3 linked regions of the Homo sapiens genome follow. The protein of the gene in region 1 interacts with the protein of each later gene in a pairwise test. Each region holds a gene or a part of one and is shown on either strand. Other genes may lie near its edges. The genes, in order: LSAMP, STAM and PLB1.

Evidence for each region.
Region 2: the proteins of LSAMP (region 1) and STAM interact in binary tests that used the Homo sapiens proteins (3 or more experiments, as listed by UniProt).
Region 3: the proteins of LSAMP (region 1) and PLB1 interact in binary tests that used the Homo sapiens proteins (3 or more experiments, as listed by UniProt).

What each region holds. Positions count from the first base shown.
Region 1 is NC_000003.12:116,085,476-116,092,589, reverse strand, and holds part of LSAMP (limbic system-associated membrane protein isoform 1 preproprotein), read left to right. Parts: intron 1-6,033; coding exon 6,034-6,266; intron 6,267-7,114.
Region 2 is NC_000010.11:17,703,088-17,710,201, reverse strand, and holds part of STAM (signal transducing adapter molecule 1), read right to left. Parts: intron 5,772-7,114; coding exon 5,684-5,771; intron 5,233-5,683; coding exon 5,178-5,232; intron 4,615-5,177; coding exon 4,461-4,614; intron 1,427-4,460; coding exon 1,251-1,426; intron 1-1,250. UniProt on the Homo sapiens protein: Involved in intracellular signal transduction mediated by cytokines and growth factors. Upon IL-2 and GM-CSL stimulation, it plays a role in signaling leading to DNA synthesis and MYC induction. May also play a role in T-cell development.
Region 3 is NC_000002.12:28,499,020-28,506,133, reverse strand, and holds part of PLB1 (phospholipase B1, membrane-associated isoform 1 precursor), read right to left. Parts: intron 1-7,114. UniProt on the Homo sapiens protein: Calcium-independent membrane-associated phospholipase that catalyzes complete diacylation of phospholipids by hydrolyzing both sn-1 and sn-2 fatty acyl chains attached to the glycerol backbone (phospholipase B activity).

The sequences.
Region 1 (7,114 bases):
GGAATCAAATATACTAAACAGGGAAGATAAAAATTTGTGTGCTTACCTTTCCTAATTTTTTTAAGAGATGATTTTTTAAAAATCATAGATTTGCAGTTCCAGTAGGTAACCCATCTAATATTTGAGGGTTCATGATTAACGTGAGCAACCTCCTAATCACTTATTTAGGATGTTATACTTTTTTTTCACAGTTTTTCACATGCAATATAGATCATTTAGTTCCTAGAGATGATATTTCTTCATAGTGGACACAGGAACACATTTTTTCTCTCCTTTACTTTCATTTTAATACCACACTCAATAATTCTCTTTAAATTTCCCTTTATACCTAATAACTTTAATTATTTCTTAAGAAATATTAAAATAGTTATCCATCTTTACTGTACCTATTAGATAATTAATGAATATTTTATAATTGACCTAATGCAATTTGTTAAATTAAATTCAGCTTGTTTATTCCACATTTCAGCAAGTATCTACTATGCACATGGTATTTATGCACATGGTATTTAGGCTCAGTGAGGGCTCCAGAGGTGAATTACAAGAAGGTCACTGTCTTAATAAGCTTATGAGAAAAGATGAGTGCAAATAACTCTAATGCAATGTGGAGTATGATAAGGTCATAAAAAGGAAGTTTTAAGAAGGTTACACTGACGAGAGAAGATTTTCTGAAGAGGTGGCACTTTATAGCATACGTCCATGTCCTCAGCTGCCTTCCATAAAACCCACCCAAAGCGGAAGGATATTCTCTGATCCTCTCCTCGTGGCACTAACACCCATTGTCATTAGGGTCCGGTTCTTTCTAAACCTGGGAATTATTTGCAACATCATGTGTTCCTCAAGACAACATTCTATTAAAACAACACATAACACTAACAGGTTTTTGAAATACATCTTTTTATCTTCCTGCTTTAGCCCAGGTTGATTCTAGAGATAAAATTGTTGCGGGAAGTCAGGGACCCCAAACGGAGGGACCGGCTGAAGCCATGACAGAAGAACGTGGATTGTGAAGATTTTATGGACATTTATTAGTTCCCCAAATTAATACTTTTGTAATTTCTTATGCCTGTCTTTACTGCAATCTCTAAACATAAATTGCGAAGAGTTCATGGACACTTCTCACTTCCCCAATCAATACCCTTGTGATTTCCTATGCCTGTCTTTACTTTAGTCTCTTAGTCCTGTCAGCCGAGAAGGATGTATGTCACCTCAGGACCCTGTAATAATTGCATTAACTGCACAAATTGTACAGCATGTGTGTTTGAGCAATATGAAATGTGGGCACCTTGAAAAAAGAACAGGATAACAGCAATTGTTCAGGGAATATGAGAGATAACCTTAAACTCTGGCCGCCGGTGAGCCGGGCAGAACAGAGCCATATTTCTCTTCTTTCAAAAGCAAATGGGAGAAATATCACTGAATTCTTTTTCTCAGCATGGAACGTCCCTGAGAAAGAGAATGCGCACCTGGGGGTAGGTCTCTGAACTGGCCCCCCAGGGGCGTACCTGTCTCTTATGGTCGAGATTGCAGAGGTGAGATAGTCTCCAGTCTCCCATAGCGCTCCCAGGCTTATTAGGAAGAGGAAATTCCCACCTAATAAATTTTGGTCAGACGGTTGATCTCAAAACCCCGTCTCCTGATAAGATGTTATCAATGACAATGGTGCCCGAAACTTCATTAGCAATTTTAATTTCACATCGGTCCTGTGGTCCTGTGATCTCGCCCTGCCTCCACTTGCCTTATGATATTCTATTACTCTGTTAAGTACTTGATGTCTGTCACCCACACCTATTCACACATTCCCTCCCCTTTTGAAAATCCCTAATAAAAACTTGCTGGTTTTTGTGGCTTGTGGGGCATCACGGATCCTACCAACGTGTGATGTCTCCCCTGGACACCCAGCTTTAAAATTTCTCTCTTTTGTACTCTGTCCTTTTATTTCTCAAGCCAGCCGACGCTTAGGAAAATAGAAAAGAACCTACGTGATTTTCCGGGGCAGGTCCCCCGAAACAAAATCATTAAGTATAAAGTTTAGAACTAAATTGCAGCAACATTCTAGGTAGGTGATAATTCATTATTATCATATTATAATGGCATGGCCCGAGAATTCTCATTTACTCCACAAGCCTGCCTAATGCACAGTTGAGCCAGCAGACCTCAGAGATGCAAGCCCATGATGCTTATTGGTGATTCAGTGAATGCTGGGAACCTGGGTCTGTATTTATATCAGCATTTCTTATTTCCAGATAGCCAGGTGGTCTGTCAGTACACTGTATGACTAGTTATTATCTCTTAATAAACGTAGACCTCTACAAATTGAAACTACTGATTCTGGTTTACTATATTTTCTTTTCTTTCTCTTTCTTTTTTTTTTTTTTTAGACAAGGTCTCACTCTGGCCAGGCTGGAGTGCAGTGATGTGATCATAGCTCACTGTAGCCTTGAACTCCTGAGTTCAAGTGATTTTCCTGCCTCCAGCCTCCCAAAGAGCTGGGATTACAGGCATGCGCCACCGTGCCTGGTCCTACCATTTTTTTTCATGTGTACTTTTTATGATTAAAAAAAATAGGTGCCACCTTAAATTAAGATTCTAAAATTAAGAAAATATTTAGTTCTGAAATTGCATTATTCCTTTACTCATTTTTTATTAAGAAAGTTTTAGTCACATTGTAGAAGGATTATTTTCCAGTTTATAGAGCTAATAGATTTATTTTGCAACTACTGAGTACATAAAAAGGAACCCTGAAAGATCTGGAGAAGTGGTTTCCTTTTTATTTTATTTTTATTTATTTATTTTTTTTCCATTGAGATATATTTATTTTAAACAAATTTCTCCTTGAAATGGTTTCCTTTTTAAAAACACTATACTGTATTGTGTTCTGGTGCTTGGAGTTTGGCTAACCATCTGAGTTAGGAAAAAGTATGTGTATTCTAGGCCGGGCACGGTGGCTCACGCCTGTAATCCCAGCACTTTGGGAGACCGAGGTGGGCGGATCACGAGGTCAGGAGATTGAGACCATCCTGGCTAACACGCTGAAACCCCGTCTCTGCTAAAAATACAAAAAATTAGGCGGGCGTGGTGGCAGGCGCCTGTAGTGCCAGCTACTCGGGAGGCAGAGGCAGGAGAATGGCGTGAACCTGGGAGGCAGAGCTTGCAGTGAGCTGAGATTGCACCACTGCACTCTAGCCTGGGCGACGGAGCGAGACTCCATCTCAAAAACAAAACAAAACAAAAAAAAGTATATGTGTATTCTAATATACTATTCACTTGTTTGTCAGTAAAAGACGAATTTTAAAAATAAATACGGATAAAACCCAGATCAAAAACAAGGTGCTATGTAAATTGTCATAACAAAATTTCCACATAATACATTGTTTCATTAGATGCACTTTTATGCATCTGGCAATTTTGCTGAAATGGTCAATTACTTCTTTAGGTAAGATAGAGCTGAACACCCTCAAAGAATAATTTGGAATAATGATCCGTATGACTTTAACTTTTCCATGAATGAAATTTGCTAAAATGTCAAAGGACCATAAAGACCCGACTTATAAACTTTACCTTATATTGTTAAGGAAATCTGTCCAATTTATTTGTGGGTGCTATAGGACTTGGGATGGGGACGTGGAATATAGGTTACCAAATGTCCTGTATCTGCATGTGTGACCCAGTTAGTTCACAGGACAGGCATTTATCAAATGCCTGTTTTATCCTAGATTAGTTATTGGTGGTATCCAAATGAATAAGGTAAAAATTTGCTGTTTTTATTGGATTCACAGGCCATATTTAGGTAAGCTATATTACGTGGTATTTTTTCTTTTAAAGTGAAGAGATTGGAGCCATATTTGGTGCTAAGAGGCATTCAGAATACATCTATAATGTAGCAAATCTGACCATTCTTGTGTTACGCTGTGCAGGTGAGAAACATGCACAGGGAAAAATGATAGAAGATTTAAAACACATTTACACAGGTAAATTTCTATCCTTCTTACTAGAATAGAAAAAACATGGTAAATCTACATTCAACAATTTCATAATGGTCTAGAGTAAGACACCAAACATCCTATTAATTAATTCATCAATGATTTTAAATTCAGAGATGCGGCAAACATCACCAAGAACAGAGAAATGATGCCACAAGAGAGGAGAACAGCAAAAGTAAAACTGAGTCTGGAATGAGGCAGCAAGCATTCATGAAGTTAGCTTGGTGCTCATGATAAAAGGCCTCTAAATTATTAAACACATAAATTATACTCAATAATATATGCATGGCAGAGAAGCACATACTGGGAAATGGAGATGTTAAATGATACCTAAATCTAGTTATGTTTATGAAAACAAATAGGTAAAGAAGAAAAGTAAGACCTGTGTATCTTGGCACCCAACTTATTAAGTCAAATTCTTACTCTAGGGTCAGGCATGGTGGCTCATGACTATAATCCCAGTGCTTAGGGAGGCCAAGTTGGGAAGATCACTTGAGGCTAGCCTGGACAACACAGCAAGACCCCATCTCTAATTTTTTTTTTAAATTAGCTAGTCCTGGTGGCATGCACCTATCATCCTAGCTACTTAGGAGGCTGAGGCAGGAGGATTGCTTGAGCTCAGTAGTTTGAGGCTGCAGTGAGCTATGATCAGGCCACTGCTCCCCAGTCTTGGTGACCGAACAAGATCTGTCTCAAAAAAAAAAAAAAAAATCTCCCTCTAAATAACATATACAATTCGTTTAAAATTAATAGGATAAGGAGGTCTTTGTATTATACCATAAATGGAGTATTTAAAAAGACTTAGCTGTTATCTTTCTTGTAAGAGACACAGTTGGCCTTTATATTCCATGTGGGACAGCCTATGGGTTATGCATCAATTTTCTGTCTATGTTTAGTTGTTTTGACCTGAGATAAAAACTGGATTTTACTTGGCTTAGAAAATACAGGGGAACAGGGTGTCTTAATAGTCCTGCTGTGGTGCTCGTGGCTCTTTCTGTTCATTCCCTCCTGCTCCAGAGTGTTGAGCAGCTGGCTTTGCAGCTGTGAACAGGGTTTGGGACATCTCCCTATGGGGCAGACATAAATCTTGCCACAGGGATGCAGACAGAAGGTTTTTTTGTTTTTGTTTTCTGCTAGATTTTTCCATTGCAAGACTCTTGCTGGAACTGAAGGAGAAAACCATACTCACCAAAAAGTATTTACCCCTCCTTCACTAATGCATGTTCTTTGCCCCTTTCAAATTTCAGAAAGAGACCCTTTTAAGTTTTTTAAAGCAGTAATTCAATTAAGCGTTATTCCTTTACCCTTTTTGATCTATTGGTCTATAAACTACAAAATTGGCTTCTTCATCTTTGTTAAAGATTGCCTGCATTTAGTGTGACTAGAAATGCTGGTAGCAACCTAACTTGCCACCAAACAAGCTTCTGCCTTCAGCAGCTGGAACCAAACTTATGCCAGATGATGTTTGCTTTGATTTCCTTGTCATAACACCTATCCCCTTATGCTTGGATCTGCTCACACAATTTTTACTCCTGGAAGTGGCATCCCAAACTTGTAAAGATTAGAAGTAAACTCAGAAGTCTAGTCTAATTCCTATAATGGTGGAGTATAACTTTAATCTATCATTACACAATACTATAGGAAATACTTATAAAAGAGTAAACACAGTTCAAGATGGAGTAAAAGTGCTATGATATCAATTGTATAATTCTCAAAATTACTTAAACAGACGGAGTTCTGAGTGAGTGGCCTTTTCCTAAACAAGAAGAAGATAATGGGAAGTCAATACTAATTTAACTTTGCCTTCATTACTCATACTCAGATTGTTTATTGCTGAACTGAGTCTAATATAATGACATCCATCCACTGGATGGTAATTAGATCTTAAATGAAATAGTGAAAATTCTAAGGACTCCAAGAATGGCATGGCAATAATTCATTCTGCATATAATTATTTTCCTTGTTTAGACTTGTTGAGTCTGATCACCTAGAGAAGAAACGCAGAAATAGTTGTTGTTAAGGCACTAATATTGTTACTCTGCTCTGTCAGGTGCGTTGTAGAAGACAAGAACTCAAAGGTGGCCTGGTTGAACCGTTCTGGCATCATTTTTGCTGGACATGACAAGTGGTCTCTGGACCCACGGGTTGAGCTGGAGAAACGCCATTCTCTGGAATACAGCCTCCGAATCCAGAAGGTGGATGTCTATGATGAGGGTTCCTACACTTGCTCAGTTCAGACACAGCATGAGCCCAAGACCTCCCAAGTTTACTTGATCGTACAAGGTAAGGAAAGTGTGGGATAGAAGGGTGGTAAGAAAGAGGTGGGAGTTGCAGAATAATAATGTACAAAATATTTGCAGAATCCTTCCTGAAAAGAAATATTCCCAAAGATATTATTGGACTTAAGTATCGATTTTCTGTCTAAAAAGACACTTAAAATGAGAGGACCCAAAACAATATAGAGAGTGTACTCCTGTTACTGAGAGCCAGTAACATTGGTGAGAATGTTTTCACCTAGCCCTGAGTGTGAAAACACACGGCAAAAGCCACAGCTGTTGGAACAATGTAAATCAGGGATACCAGAACACACAGAATGCCTAGGGCCATATGAAGTACACTTTTCCACCCTGTTAGGTACCAGATGCTTTGCTGAGTTTAAGAAAGTTTGGGTTTATCTGTCCTCACCCTGAAGATTAGCACTAATTATCTTTTTTGTGATAGCAAAGTTCTTCTGAAAAAATAAAATTTTCCAGAGGACTTTTTATTTTTTCAGCTGTTCAGGTTTCTATGTAGTTTGTATCTCTACTTAATGACAAGTTACTGGTGATGAAATCCAGTGACAAAGATCTGCAAAGTAATTGGGGACAATTTGCTTCTAGATTGGGGGATCTAAGGGCACATCTGAGTCATCGTTTTACAGGATAAAAACCTTAAATGGCACTCACATACCCCCAAACTGTTGCTCAATTGGGTTTCTTTCGCCATAATTGCAGAATGAGAACAAAGCTGATCAGCTGCACAATTTTATTGCAAGTGAAGCCCAACCACCAGCAGTTTCAATGTATCTATCAGGAAAGATCTAAGCACTAACAAACATTAGGGCTGTGTTCATGTATTCTTGATTTATAATT
Region 2 (7,114 bases), on another chromosome or scaffold:
TAGAGCAGCATGTGACATAGTCAAACAGAGGACTAGCAGGGGAAAAGTGGCAGTTCCGGCTAATACTAAAATAGCTGCAGGGTCCTATTAAGTCAGGAACCCTAGTGTCTTCTCAACAATTCCTACCTTCTAGCCCCTTTGTATCTAGTTGTAAAGCAACATGCTACTCTAAGAACAGCTGTTTATTTTCCAGAAGGGTATTCATTTCCACCAGATTTCAACTTAAAAAAAAATCCTGCAAGAGTGCAAGCTACACTTAACACTTTTTTCTAAGATACAGAACCCACTAGGGAATGCCCTGTTTTCTGACATGTGGGCCTTGCCATCATCCCCCTTAAGGTCACTTCGGGATACTAGATCTGACAACCGAATAATGCTTGAAAATCCCCAAGCATCTCTAACACGTAACTCTTTGAGGATGAGTAGTGCAAGAGAGGGCAGTGCAGGAGCATTCCTGGGCAATCCTAACACTGCTGGAAAGGTTTCTAGAAGTTGTGCCTGTGCTACCTAGAAACTTCTGTTGCCAGCTAGAATGTCGTAACTTCTAGAATACACGTTGGTAAACTCTTAAAAGCCTATCCTTTATTTGCTTCAAGGAAAAGATTTCAGCTCAGAGTCCCATTAAAGCAGAAAAAACACACAATAATCATTTAACTACATGACAGACAGCACTGTAAGTAAATGGCAAAGTAAATGGGCCTCTGTCATCACATATTCAGCCATCTGCCTCCTGAGAAACAAGGGTGCTTACCTTCTTATTATCTTCTTGTTTCAAATGGGGTACCTTGATATAATATAAACTAAATTCCAAAACAGGGCAAAAATAAGAAAATATTTGTCTTAAAGAGACAGCTCAGAACTATATATTTTAAAATAACGGAATTTAGATTTTATACAAAATGTGTGGAAAAATGACAAATTATAGTCACTAAACATAAATTTCATTAAAGACATTATCAAATATCATAGATGCAAATAAAAACAACAATAAAAACTTATGGTTAGAGTAGTATTAAAAATATAAGGCTGAAACCAGATTACATGAGTTGAGCGAGTCGGGAGCAGAGGACCAGCTTGCTGGCTGGTACTGGAATACCACAGAGGCTCCACCACTCATTAGCACAAATGGGGCGGCCGCATGACGCTGACCACAGATATTTATTAGCCAGATTTTATAGTTATAGATAACTGGGGGCACTTAAACAGCTGTAACAGCACTAACTCCAAACAAGAATCAACAGTAAAATTACTTTGGGTAAGCGGCCTGAGTCTGCTGACTAGGAAGGGCTGGGTTTGCGGATGGTGGGACCACTGCCTGGCTGAGAGAAGACAGCTGCTCCGGGGGAAGACTGTAGCTCTGGAGGTGGCTCATCTGCGCGTTCCCTGCAACCAGGTAGGCACCACTTGGAGGAGGCCCTGCATACACCTGCGATGGTTAAAGAGAAATCATATTCAATTCTAAAATTTTAATAAGCATACTGAACTTTCTCTGTAGAGGTATTCAGTTACAAAAACAAGAAAAATCACCACTCTGGAATCCTTTTTTCAAAGTTATTTCTGTCAACGGGCATTTTGAAAAACGCTTTTCAATGAAATAGGCTGTTGATGGTTTTCATTTTTAGTTAAACATATGCTAAACTCATGTTATCTCCATACTGAAGCATTAAAGAAACTTATCCTGAAACTTTATACTAATCTCCCTTTACATTAAATATATTTTAATATTCTGCATGTTGGTATTTTTTAAGGAATCCCAAAGGATATTTAGAAAGTGTATTTGAACTCATTGTTTTGTAGCCATAGACTGCAATGGATACAAGTCACATTTCCTAAACTGCAGTTTATTGAACAATAGAGCAAGCTAACTTTCTAAAGCAGGGGTCAGCAAACTTTTTTGTAAAGGGCCTGACGTAAATATTTTAAGTTTTGTGGACCATGTAGTCTCTGACACAACTACTCGGCTCTGTCAGTAAATCAGAGTGGCTGTGTTCTGATAAAAGTTTATTTAAAGCCGCCAGGCATGGTGGCTCATGCCTGTAATCCCAGCACTTTGGGAGGCCGAGGCAGGCAGATCACGAGGTCAGGAGATCGAGACCATCCTGGCTAACACAGTGAAACCCCGTCTCTACTAAAAATACAAAAAATTAGCCAGGCGTGGTGGCGGGCGCCTGCAGTCCCAGCTACTCGGGAGGCTGAGGCAGGAGAATGGCCTGAACCCAGGAGGCGGAGCTGGCAGCGAGCTGAGATCGCGCCACTGCACTCCAGCCTGGGCGACAAAGCAAGACTCCGTCTCAAAAAAAAGTTTATTAAAAAAAAAAAAAACAGGCAACAGGCTGGATTTGTCTACTTCTGTATTTCAAAATGCATTTTTTTAATCTAAAGAGATTGAAGTCTTAACTACCCAAAGTCTAAAACACATAATGTCCTAATTTTCTGCAGTATTCATTAGATCCTTCCATTTAGCACTTCTGTTAAACGACAGACCCACACAGGGATCCAAAGGGTCTTCATTATAAACACAGCTATACCAGTCCTCCTAACTTTATTTTGTCATTCTTCGAAAATTGAACATGAAGGTTTTTTGCTTCCTTGTCTCAAACTGGTGATCAAGACTCTAAAGCAGGTGCCCTCTAGCCCCAAGTTTCTTGGGCCTAGCTGTTCATCTACAGGGTGCTGGCCCCTCATTCTGCTAAACGTTAATCTGAACACAGTCCGTGCCCACTTTACATGGAAAAAATGGAGTATCTGGCTAGTTTTGTTTTTATTTATTATTATTATTATTATTATTTTTTGAGGTGGAGTCTTGCTCTGTCGCCCAGGCTGGAGTGCAATGGCACGATCTCGGCTCACTGCAACCTCCGCCTCCCGGGTTCATGCCATTCTCCTGCCTCAGCCTCCCAAGTAGCTGGGACTATAGGCACCCACCACCACGCCAGGCTAAATTTTTTGTATTTTGAGCAGAGACAGGGTTTCACCATGTTAGCCAGGATGGTCTCCATCTCCTGACCTCGTGATCCACCCGCCTCGGCCTCCCAACGTGCTGGGATTACAGGTATGAGCCACCGCACCCGGCCAGTATCTGGCTAGTTATTCCCTATAACCTCACCTCACCGTGATGAGTTTGTGAAAAGGGGGTCCTTGAAATAGTTGCTTGGGGTGAAAAGAAAGCAAACGGCTCTACACTGCATTGCATGCATTCTCATGTAAAGCAGGGAAAATTCCAGATTAAAGCAGTTTTTAAATTATGGAAATATATTTTGTTGGTTTGTAATAATAAAAACAGGTTTTTACCTCATTTTTTTTTCACTGCATTTAAGTTTTCCTTTTAAGGATAACTAGAAGTTCATTAGATATTTAAGAGAGTTTTCTTAGCTCTAAAAGCATTTTGTGTTTTTTACGAAACTACTTTATTGAGATATGTCTGACCTGCAAAAGGCTATACATATTGAGTGTACACAACCTGATGAAGAACTAAGGTTCTTAAGTAAATAATTACATACGAAGCTTTAAAAATATGGGCCTCGGCCGGGCGCGATGGCTCACACCTGGAATCCCAGCACTTTGGGAGGCCGAGGCGGGTGGATCACGAGGTCAGGAGATCAAGGCCAACCTGGCTAACACGGCGAAACCCCGTCTCTACTAAAAATACAAAAAAATTAGCCTGGCGTGGTGACGGGCGCCTGTAGTCCCAGCTACTCAGGAGGCTGAGGCAGGAGAATGGCGAGAACCCGGAAGGCGGAGCTTGCAGTGAGCTGAGATTGCAGCACTGCACTCCAGCCTGGGCCACGGAGTGAGACTCCGCCTCAAAAAAAAAAAAAAAAAAAAAAAAAAAGGGCCTCAACCCTGAGGATTCTGATTCAATAGGTCTGGAGTGGGATGGATATATCTGTAATTTTTTTCAAAAGTGTGATGGCTGATTCTGCTGCATAACCCTGTATAAAAGCTATTTCCTTTAAACAACAACAACAACAAAAAACTATTAGCATAATTAGTATATTATATGCTGTAACTGCCAAGTAAAAAAATTCCGTTAAACTTTATTTTAATTTTAAACATTAGTTTTAGAAAGTTTCAAACAGCTATTCCAAATAATCTCAAATGCATTTGAGAATTTATTTATTTATTTATTTATTTTAGAGACAGGGTGTCGCTGTTGCCCAGGCTAGACTGCAGTGGTGTGAACACGGCTCACTGCAGCCTCGACCTTCTGGGCTCAAGCTATCCTCCCACCTCAGCTTTTCGAGAGCAGGGACCAAGGAACATGCCCCAGCCTGGCTAATTTTTTTTTTTTTTTTTGGTAGAGACAGAGTCTCACTATGTTACCCAGGCTGGTCTTAAACTCCTGGTCTCAAGCAATCCTCTTGCCTTGGCCTCCCAAATTGCTGAGATTACAGGCATGAGCTACCACACCTCACTGTGCATTTGAGAATTTAAAACAACATGGGCTTCTAAAAGCTTACCTGAGAACCAGAAACACCAGATGACTGCATATAATATGGCTGATTCTGTAACTTTGCATACATGGAATACATCGGATCTTCGTTCATTAACTTGGTATATAAGGAAAGGGCCTCCATCACTTTCACATTAAGTTCTGAGAGTTCTGAATGTTTTCTGAAACATGACACAATAATTTGAAGCATAGCTGTTACTAAAATGATATAATGCTCTAAATAATGATACATCAAAATATCAAAAATGGCAAAAAGTAGTACTAGTAGACATTATTAAAAATTTCACTTATAACAAAAATATCCTGCATTTTAGCCCTGAAGCAACCCAAACTGTTTAAGGTTTACGTGCTGTGCTAAGGGAACTCCGTCTTATCGTACCTGACTGTACCAGAAATATCTTGGTTTCCCTAGTTACTAACATATGGGTCATTTGTGAGCTCTGGTAATGCCACTTCAGCAAAGAGAATTACATAGCTAGCCCTTGTTTTTAAAACGACCTATCTACGCTGGTCCTTTTGACTATATTGCAAAGGTCGATCAAATCCTCACTTTAAAAAAAAGGACAAATGAGTCTAATTCTCCACATCTAGCACAAGATATGTGAATGAGAGTTGGTTCCTCCACAATATTTTTTTTTTAAAAGGCAGTTATAGCCCACTTTGCAGTACAGTGATAGCTTCAGGAAAGAAGGTACACAACATAAATGCACCCATGTTCTTTTACCTATCAATATCTTCCAGCTTTTCATCAATGAGAGGTCCCATCTGGTGACACATTGCTAAAATGACAAGATGTGAAGAAATATAAGAAAGTACAAGAAAAAAAAATGTGAACCTTTGATAGATATTTGTATAATTTAAGGAATAAAAGATTTAATTTGGAGTAATAAAAATATACATTCTTTAACCTTAGTCTACAGAACCCAAAATTGATTTTCTTAAAGTATAATGGTGACAACTTAATCTAAAATATTAATCTGAAAATCTTAAAGTGCCATTTTTCATTTTACCAGGTTCTAAAATGTTGAACAGAACACTTCGTTTGGATAGAAAATTATAAGAATTCAAATTCTACCCAAGGTTTCAACTGCATATGAGAGTGAGCCTGGGTCAAGGAGAAGTGAGAAATGTTCCATTTTTAATATTATCCTCAAAACCCATTCTTTAACAGGACACCAGTTATTAACCTCTAACTACTCTTTATTTGCAAGGTAAATAGAAAAGTTTTACCTTCAAGATGAAGCAGCTCTGGTAGGTCTGGCTGATCATCACTGGGGTCTGTACTTTGCAGCATCTGTAGCAACTGGTCCATTTTATCCTACAGGAATTAAGTAGTTAATATAAAAAGCTACCAACCTTTAGGCAACTTTATGTTTTCACTTTATTATCAACTAGACAAACTTTTGAAATTCATAGTTATGGAGACTCCAATTTTGCTTTTATGTTGTCAGTGTCCCATGTATTTATTCTCTCTAGTACTGCATGAAGTCAGAGCCTTGAAAGTACTTCCTATATATTTTTGAAACTGCTCAGGAGGCTGAGGTGGGAGAATCACTTGAGCCCAGGAGGTCAAGGCTGCAGTGAGCTATGATCTCGCCACTGCACTTCAGTCTGGACAACAGTGCAAGACCCTGTTTAAATAAATAAATAAACCAACCAACCAACTGCTAACAGAGATTCTCTTAAGCGAGAAGAAATCAAGCCACATTTAAACTTACAATGCGTGAGTTCTTCCACCTCTTATGTCATGCCAGAGGATTTTGCTTTGTTTCGGAGCAGCTTTAGCTTAGCCATGCCAACAAGTGTACTATCCATCTCAAGATGGCATTGCTTATGACTAACAACTTGTCATTCCTACTTGCCCATGGTGAATACAGCAGCTGTTTCAGTAAGGCAGAGCTCAGCTGTATCACAGCTGCTCTTCTAAGTGGGACTCTTAGGGTTTATTCCACATTTTCTTTCTACCAGTGTTTCAGTTGGTCATAAAAGGAAGGAGGAAGACTAGTGGTTTCTCTATTTTCCTATTTGGGAGAGGCTGGAAGGTACCTCAAACCAGTGACACAGATCTATTTCAGAATCTTTTGTTGTACAGACCAATGGAATGAATGAAACCATTATTACATACACACATCTATACGATATATAAGTATATATGTATTTATGTTTTTTAAAAAATCCAAACAGATCTACTTTACCATGACCACTACTAAAATAATTACAAACCTTTCTCCATGCATGGTTTTTACATGGTTATGCTACTATATATAGGTACGCAGGGCAAATAAAGACTACTAATCCTAAGCAAAGTAATTATTTAAAATTTAAAAACTATGTTCTGTGTAAAAGGAAAATAGCTTGAGAAACGAATTAATCATCAGAGAGTGAAAGTGACATAAGTATGCTAAAAAAAAAAAAAACTCTTCCCAAGTCAAAATAATTCTGTTTTTTTGAAATGGATACCAATTTTCAATGTAAATTATTCACAATTTTCATTTTAAGCAGTCTTAAAAAACAAAAGCACATGTCAAGAAAGTTTGCCTACCACACACAAAAAAAGGTCAAATGAAAGTGAGAGTCCATTAACACACAGATGGTTTCCGTTTTGTTTGCTTACAGAATACTATACAATATTTAAAATTATTTAGTGTCAAAGAAGTAGGG
Region 3 (7,114 bases), on another chromosome or scaffold:
CAACTTGGGTTTTTAGAAGGGTGCTCAGTTAACTGACAGTAACAAAAATGCAACTTGATGGAAATGATGATTGACAATAAAGTCCTAGAAATCTACAAGGCACAGATGACATCCCAGGAAAGTAGAACTTCTGAGCCTCTAGAGAAAACCCCATACCTGTGCTCAGTGTCCAAAGCAGACATTTGGAGACAAGTGTGTGAGGTGAAGTGAGGGTTGGGGATGGGGATGGAGGCATTGGGATGTAGAGTCTAACACCAGAGATTCGGGGATGGCTATGCCACCAACTAGGTGTGTGACCCAAGCAGGTTCTCCCTGATCTTGCATCAATAATTTGAAGGACTCAGGCCACCAAAAGTTCTCAAATATCCCTTTCTACTCTTATTTAGAAAGACTGTATTTCTAGAAGGCTTGGGAAAACTTCCTGCAGGAAGGGAAGGAAAGCCAACCTTCAGGAAGAACCCTGGGCTCTTGCAAAACAAATGTTACCTAGCTTGTTTTAGTAATGAAAAGGTATCCTTTTCTCACTCAATGAGTTCACCCAGCTCCCACCGTTGGTTTTGCATTGACAGGCCTGTCATGGGTACGTTACCAAGGCAACAAGTTTTTCCCACAGGCATGACAATCTTCTGGGAACTTCTGACCCATTCGAGGAAAATAAAATTCTAGCAGAAATGGTAATTTATTAGATACAATGATTTCTTGCCAACTTGCTTTTGCCGACTGCAGTTGAGTTAATGATATTTCAGTTTTATAAGCCAAAACATTCAAAGCAGGAATCTGTTTTCATATGTATTGCTTGTTGAGTCCATTTAAAAGTTTAAATAAAAGTCTAATTTTGGTTCTTCTCTCGAGCTCTATTATACTGTAAGGTAGCGAAAGGTGCTGGCCCTGGATCCAAGCTCAGGACTGACCTCAGCTTCCTGTACTAATTAGCTGGATGATTTTGGATAAGTTACCTAGCTTCTCAGTTTTCTCATCTGTAAAATGGGAAAAATAGCACAGACCATCTTAAAGGAAGGCTGTTATACATGAACTGTGCTTATCATAGAGCCTGGTTTTTCTAGGGAGCCTCACACCATGAATTTAGTTTGAAGTGATCCTCAAATGTGATAACATCCCCAGTGCCCAATAGAATGAACACTTATATCTTCTCTGAAGACATTCACCTTCATCCTAGGCCTCAAAGAATCTCATAAGTACATTTTCAAGGAGTCTGAGCACCATGCAATAAAAGATAACCAGGTATAGTACATAAAGAAATTAGGTACATATAAGCAAGAATCAGCAGGAGAACAAAAGAAACAGATCACAAAGACTTTGGATACTAAAATCATCAAAATTGTAAAATTTCAAAATGAATTTTTGTTGTTGTTGTTGTTGTTTTGTTTTTTTGAGACTGAGTCTCGCTCTGTTGCCCAGGCTGGAATGTAGTGGCCCAATCTCGGCTCACTGCAACCTCCACCTCCCAGGTTCAAGTAATTCTCCTGCCTCAACCTCCTGAGTATCGGGACTACAGGCACACACCACCATACCCAGCTAATTTTTGTATTTTCAGTAGAGATGGGGTTTCACCATGTTGGCCAGGCTGGTCTCGAACTCCTGACCTCAAGTGATCTGCCTGCCTCAGCCTCCCAAAGTGCTGGGATAACAGACGTGAGCCACTGCGCCTGGCCCTTACAATGACTATGTTTTTTAAAATAAGACAAACTTGAAGTTTTTATGGGAATCCAAAGTTATTTAATTACCAATTTGGTAAGAAACCAAATGTAAGTTAAATTTGAAAAATAAAATCACCAATTTTCAAAATCTTCAACGATCAGGTTTAACAGAAAATTAGACGCAACTGAAGGAGACTGAATAAGCTAGAAGATGTATCATAATAAATTACTTAGAATGCAGTGTAGAAAGACAAGAAGATGGTAAAGTTGGTAGAGAGGTGAAGAGACATGGTACATGGAGTGAGCAGGCCAAACGTTGTGCTGGCATTCCAGAAGGAAAAGGCAGAAATAATCAAGTAGAGGCAACATTTCAAGAGATACTGGTTGAGAATTTTTCAAAACTGATGGAAGTAATCAAGCCACAGATTCAGGATGTGCTAAAAAGGCCAAGCAAGATAAATTTACATAAATGAATGAACTGGAAAACAAACATACAATATAGACGATGGTATATTTTTCCAAAGATGGCCACAGCATTTCGTCTCATCCTGTATGCCCTTTTGCAGTGTGACTTTTGCCATTCTTCCCATCAAGAGGCAACGTCTATTTCCTTCACCTTGAATCCAGGCTACTACAGAAACTTGCATTGACTCATAGAAGCAGCAGAAATGACTTTGGGGACCGGACATTAGAAGGCTTTGTGGCTTCTATTTGTGCTCTTTTGGGACCTTGGGTCCCCATGTAAAGAAGTCCAGACTGCGCATACAGAAACAAAGGCCAAGGAGGGGAACACGAAGACACCCAGGTCCCAGTACCAAGTCCCCAGACATCTCATTTGGGACCCACCAAGTCAATCCCAGATGATACTATGTGGAACAGGGATGAGATGTTTCTGCTGAAGTCTTCCCAAGCTGCAGGTTCACAGAACTGTGAGTAAATGAAGTGGTTGCTACTGTAAGTCACTGAGATTTGGGGGTAGTTTGCTATGCCTCAATAGAGAACGGTGACATAGAAGATCAATAAAAGCCAGATATGGTGGCTCATGCCTGTAATCCCAACACTTTGAGAGGCTGTTGGATGATAGCTTGAGCCTAGGAGTTCAAGACCAGCCTGGGAAAGATAGTGAGACTCCCTCCCTACAAATTTTTTTTTTTTAATTAACAGGTGTGGTAGTATGCACCTGTGGTCCCAGCTACTTGGGAGCCTGGAGAGAGAGCAACTCTTGAGGCCCAGAGGTCGAGGCAGCAGTGAGCTGTGATCAGGCCACTGCACTCCAACCTGGACAGCAGAGTTAGACCTTTCTCAAAAAATAAAAAATAAAAATAAAAAATTGGTTTGAAAAAAATAATAAAGTAGACAAACCTCTGGTAAGATAAATCATAAATAATCAGTACCAGAAACAAAAAGGACATGACTACAGAAGCTACAGGTATTGAAGGGATAACAGAAAACCATACACAAATTTTATGCCAAACCACTTGCAAATTTACTCGAAATGGACACATTCCTAGAAAAAAAAACTTTCCAAAGTGGATTTAAGAAAAATAAAATATGACTAATTCTATAAGTGCTAAAGAAATTGAACCAGTAGTCAGAAATCTACCAAAAAATAATATTCCAGGCCCAGATGGCTTCATTGGCAAGTTCTACCAAACATTAAAAGGAAAAAAAATCCATTATTATTACAAACTATTCCAGAAAACAGAAAAATAGGAACACTCCCAAATTCATTTTATGAGACTGTAAAACATTGGTACCCAAATCCAGCAAGGGCAGAGAGAAAAAAGAAACTTATAACTCACTCTCATTCATGGGCATATAAGAAAAATAACCTGAAACAATTGTTAGCAAACTAAGCCTAGCAATATAAGGAAAGAGATACACCATGATCAACTTGATTTTACGCCAGCAATGGGTATACAATCCCAATGGATCATTCAGTATTAGCAAGTCTATTAATATAACTCAACATAATAGATCTAAGGGTAAATAATCATATGATTATTTCTATACATGCTGAAAAGGCCTTTAACAAAATTTAATATGAATTTCTGATGAATTAAAACTCAAGGATGTAGAAATTTATGGTTATTTCCTTAATATGAACACACACATATACATATGTTATGTATGTATGTATGATTCCCAAAGGCTATCATCTAACTGAATAGGAAAATATTCATTTCCCATTGCTTTTTGTAACCTTGAGACCACATGGTCCTTAAAAATATGAAAACATAATCAAATTACATTGTAATAAGATAAACTAAAATGTTTCTTACCTATGACATTTGCAAAAATTCTAAGTCTTGACTGCATGCTTTGTTGTCAATATAGCTTTATTGTCAAGCTATGAAAAAATAAGCAATTTCATATATATTGCTGGTAGGAATGCAAATTGGTACAATCCTTATGGAAGGAAATTTGGTAATACCTAACAAATCTATATGTGTGTTCACCCTCTGACCCAGAAATCCCAGTTCCAGGAATTTATCCTAAGTTAGATGTATAGCCTAGCATAAGCTGAACTTGAAAAAGATACATGCATGTGACTGTTCATGACAGTAGTATTTGTAATAGCAAAATATTGGAAACAACCTAATGGCCATGTTGGGAGGCTGGTGGTATATATGGTACATACTGGAATATTCTGCAGTTGGAAAAAAATAAAGATCTCTGAACTGATGTAGTATAATTTTCAGGACATATAATTAAGTAAAAAAATCAAAATGCAAAAAACATGTATAGTAGGTTATCTTGTGCAAGAATAAAGGAAAATAAGAATATATTTTCTCAAAAAGAAAAAGGATATTAAACTAATAAAATTGGTTACCTACAGGAATGACAGAAATGGGATAGAAAGGGTAGGGGAAGGGGATGGGACCTCTCTGAGTACATCTTTTCATATAGCTTCGACTTTTGAACAATGTTAATGTTTTATATATTGAAAAGACTTAGTAAAAAGCAAGAACAGAAGAAACACAAAATTAAATACAGACACACTTAACTGTATGCCACTAGGTTATATAATTACACAGAAAGAACAAAAAAAAATTCAAGTGATTCTGAACACAATATTTTGATTATACACCCTGAGTGGGATATATTCTAAAGGACGGAAGTATGGCAAAGGAATTTTGAACTTCATTTGTTGTTGGTGGTGTTGTCATAGCAATTCCAGTACTGTGTTGTATGTATTGTAGGATTCAGTAAGTGAGTAAATTCATTGATGTGTCTGTAACCCAGATTTGCACTGTGGGTGAAGGACAATACAAATATGGAATGAAAGAAGGAGATGAAAAAGTGTAATTCTACCTAAATTAAAGATAACTTTATAAATTTATTGGATGTTTTTAAAAAAGAAAACTACATTTCTTAGTTTTGTCACTGAAAGGGCCTAGACAATAACACTTCAGCATCAACAAACATTCCTAGCACCTGGACCTTGGTTTCTAAATAACACTCCCCTACCAATGGAAGCCTTGAAGAAACAGCTGATTCCAGGTTTGGGATAGAGGAAATACAAGGTTAGCAGGGAAAATCTTGTACCATGAAGTTTAAAAGTGCTTAAAAATTGATAGGGCCACAGAAGTTACCTTGAAGAGGCTCTCACTGGCCAAATCTGTAATAACTTTGGCATCAAAATGAAAAATAACAGGCCTGGATTACAACACACAGATTAATAAGAGTCCATAAGTGAATTTCTTTTCTTTTCTTTTCTTTTTTTTTGGAGACGGGGTCTCACTATATTGCCCGAGCTGGTCTCCAACTCCTGGGTTCAAGCTATCCTCCCTGCTTAGCCCCCCATAGATGAATTTCATATGAAAAAGATAAGACAAAAAGGAGGGGGGAGTTCAGTTAAATATTTATTTAAGTGGGGGAAAAAAGGGAATCTCTTTTTTATGGAGGAAACCCAACTGACAATAGCAGAAGGAAGAAGGAATGACAGAAAAATCACCATCTTCCAATCACCATGGTAAAAATTTAGGCAAGAAGTATCAATGGATGCTAAAAATCACTGGGAAAAAGGGTAATCACACAGTCTCACAGTATCTCCCTATGGATAATTTATAAACCACATGGGGCAGGTACCTTCACAAGGGAAAAAAGTCAGGCAGCCACACCTTCACCAAGTTATCAAATTTGGCATCACCAACTAGGGGATTCATGAACATCACTGTTTGTTGTTCATACACAAAAACCAGCTGAAGATGTTCACTGACACAAAAGAAACAAACAAAAAGCCGAGAGAACTATTCTTGATGAAAAGAGATTAAAGAGACAAGGCAAATAAATGCAACGTGTGGTCTCTGATAAATCTAATAAGCAATGACTGAAGAAATGAACAAAATAATAAAAAGTCAATTTATTTAATTCACAACATTAGCAGATAAAAGGAGTAAGTCACACAATCATCTCAATAAATACGGAAAAAGCATTAGATGAATTTCAACATCCACTTCTCATTTTAAAAAATCTCTTAGCAAATTTGGAATAAAGGTTTCTTAATCTCATAGAGCTTATCTACAAAAAAAGCCATTAGCAAACAGCACAATTACTGATGAGAAATTAAACATTTTCCTTTTTTTTTGAGACAGAGTCTGGCTCTGTCACTCAGGCTGGAGTACGGTGGTGCAATCTCGGCTTACTACAACCTCCACCTCCCAGGTTCAAGCAATTCTCCTGCCTCAACCTCCCGAACAGCTGGGATTACAGGCAACCGCCATCACGTCTGGCTAATTTTTGTATTTTTGTAGAGATAGGGTTTCACCATGTTGGTGAGGCTGGTCTCAAACTCCTGACCTCAGGTGATGCACCCACCTCGGCCTCCCAAAGTGCTAGGATTACAGGTGTGAGCCACCACGTCCAGCTTAACATTTTCCTTTTGAACTTGGGAATAATATAAGAATACCATCTTTGGTATCATCACCTCTTTAAAAAAAAAAAAAAAACTGTTGTGCAGGCACCAGCCGGCACAGTAAGATAAGAAAAAGAAATAAAGGCACACAGATTGAAGAGGAAGTAACAACACCGTCATTATTGGCAGGATTATGTGTGTTAGGTTGGTGCAAAAGTGAGTGCTATTTTGCCATTGCTTTGTTACAAAGCAATAGAGAACTAATCCAGACTTGAGCCTGGATTCTCTATTTTATTTTTTAAAAGGTCAGTTGGAACAACGCTATGTGCATTAGCTCTTCTGGTGGGAGCATTAAACAGCATTAAAAGTAATGGCAAAAACAGCAATCACTTTTGCACCAACCTAATAGAAAACCCAAAAGAATATATAAATTATTAAAATTTTTAAGTTTAGTTGAGTTCAAAATCAACACAAAATTCACTTTATTTCTATATATCAATAACAAACATTTCAAAATAAAAATTTTAAAACCCACTTGCCACACAACAAAAATATCTAAACCTAGGAATAAATTTAACAAAATATGTCCATGCCTGCA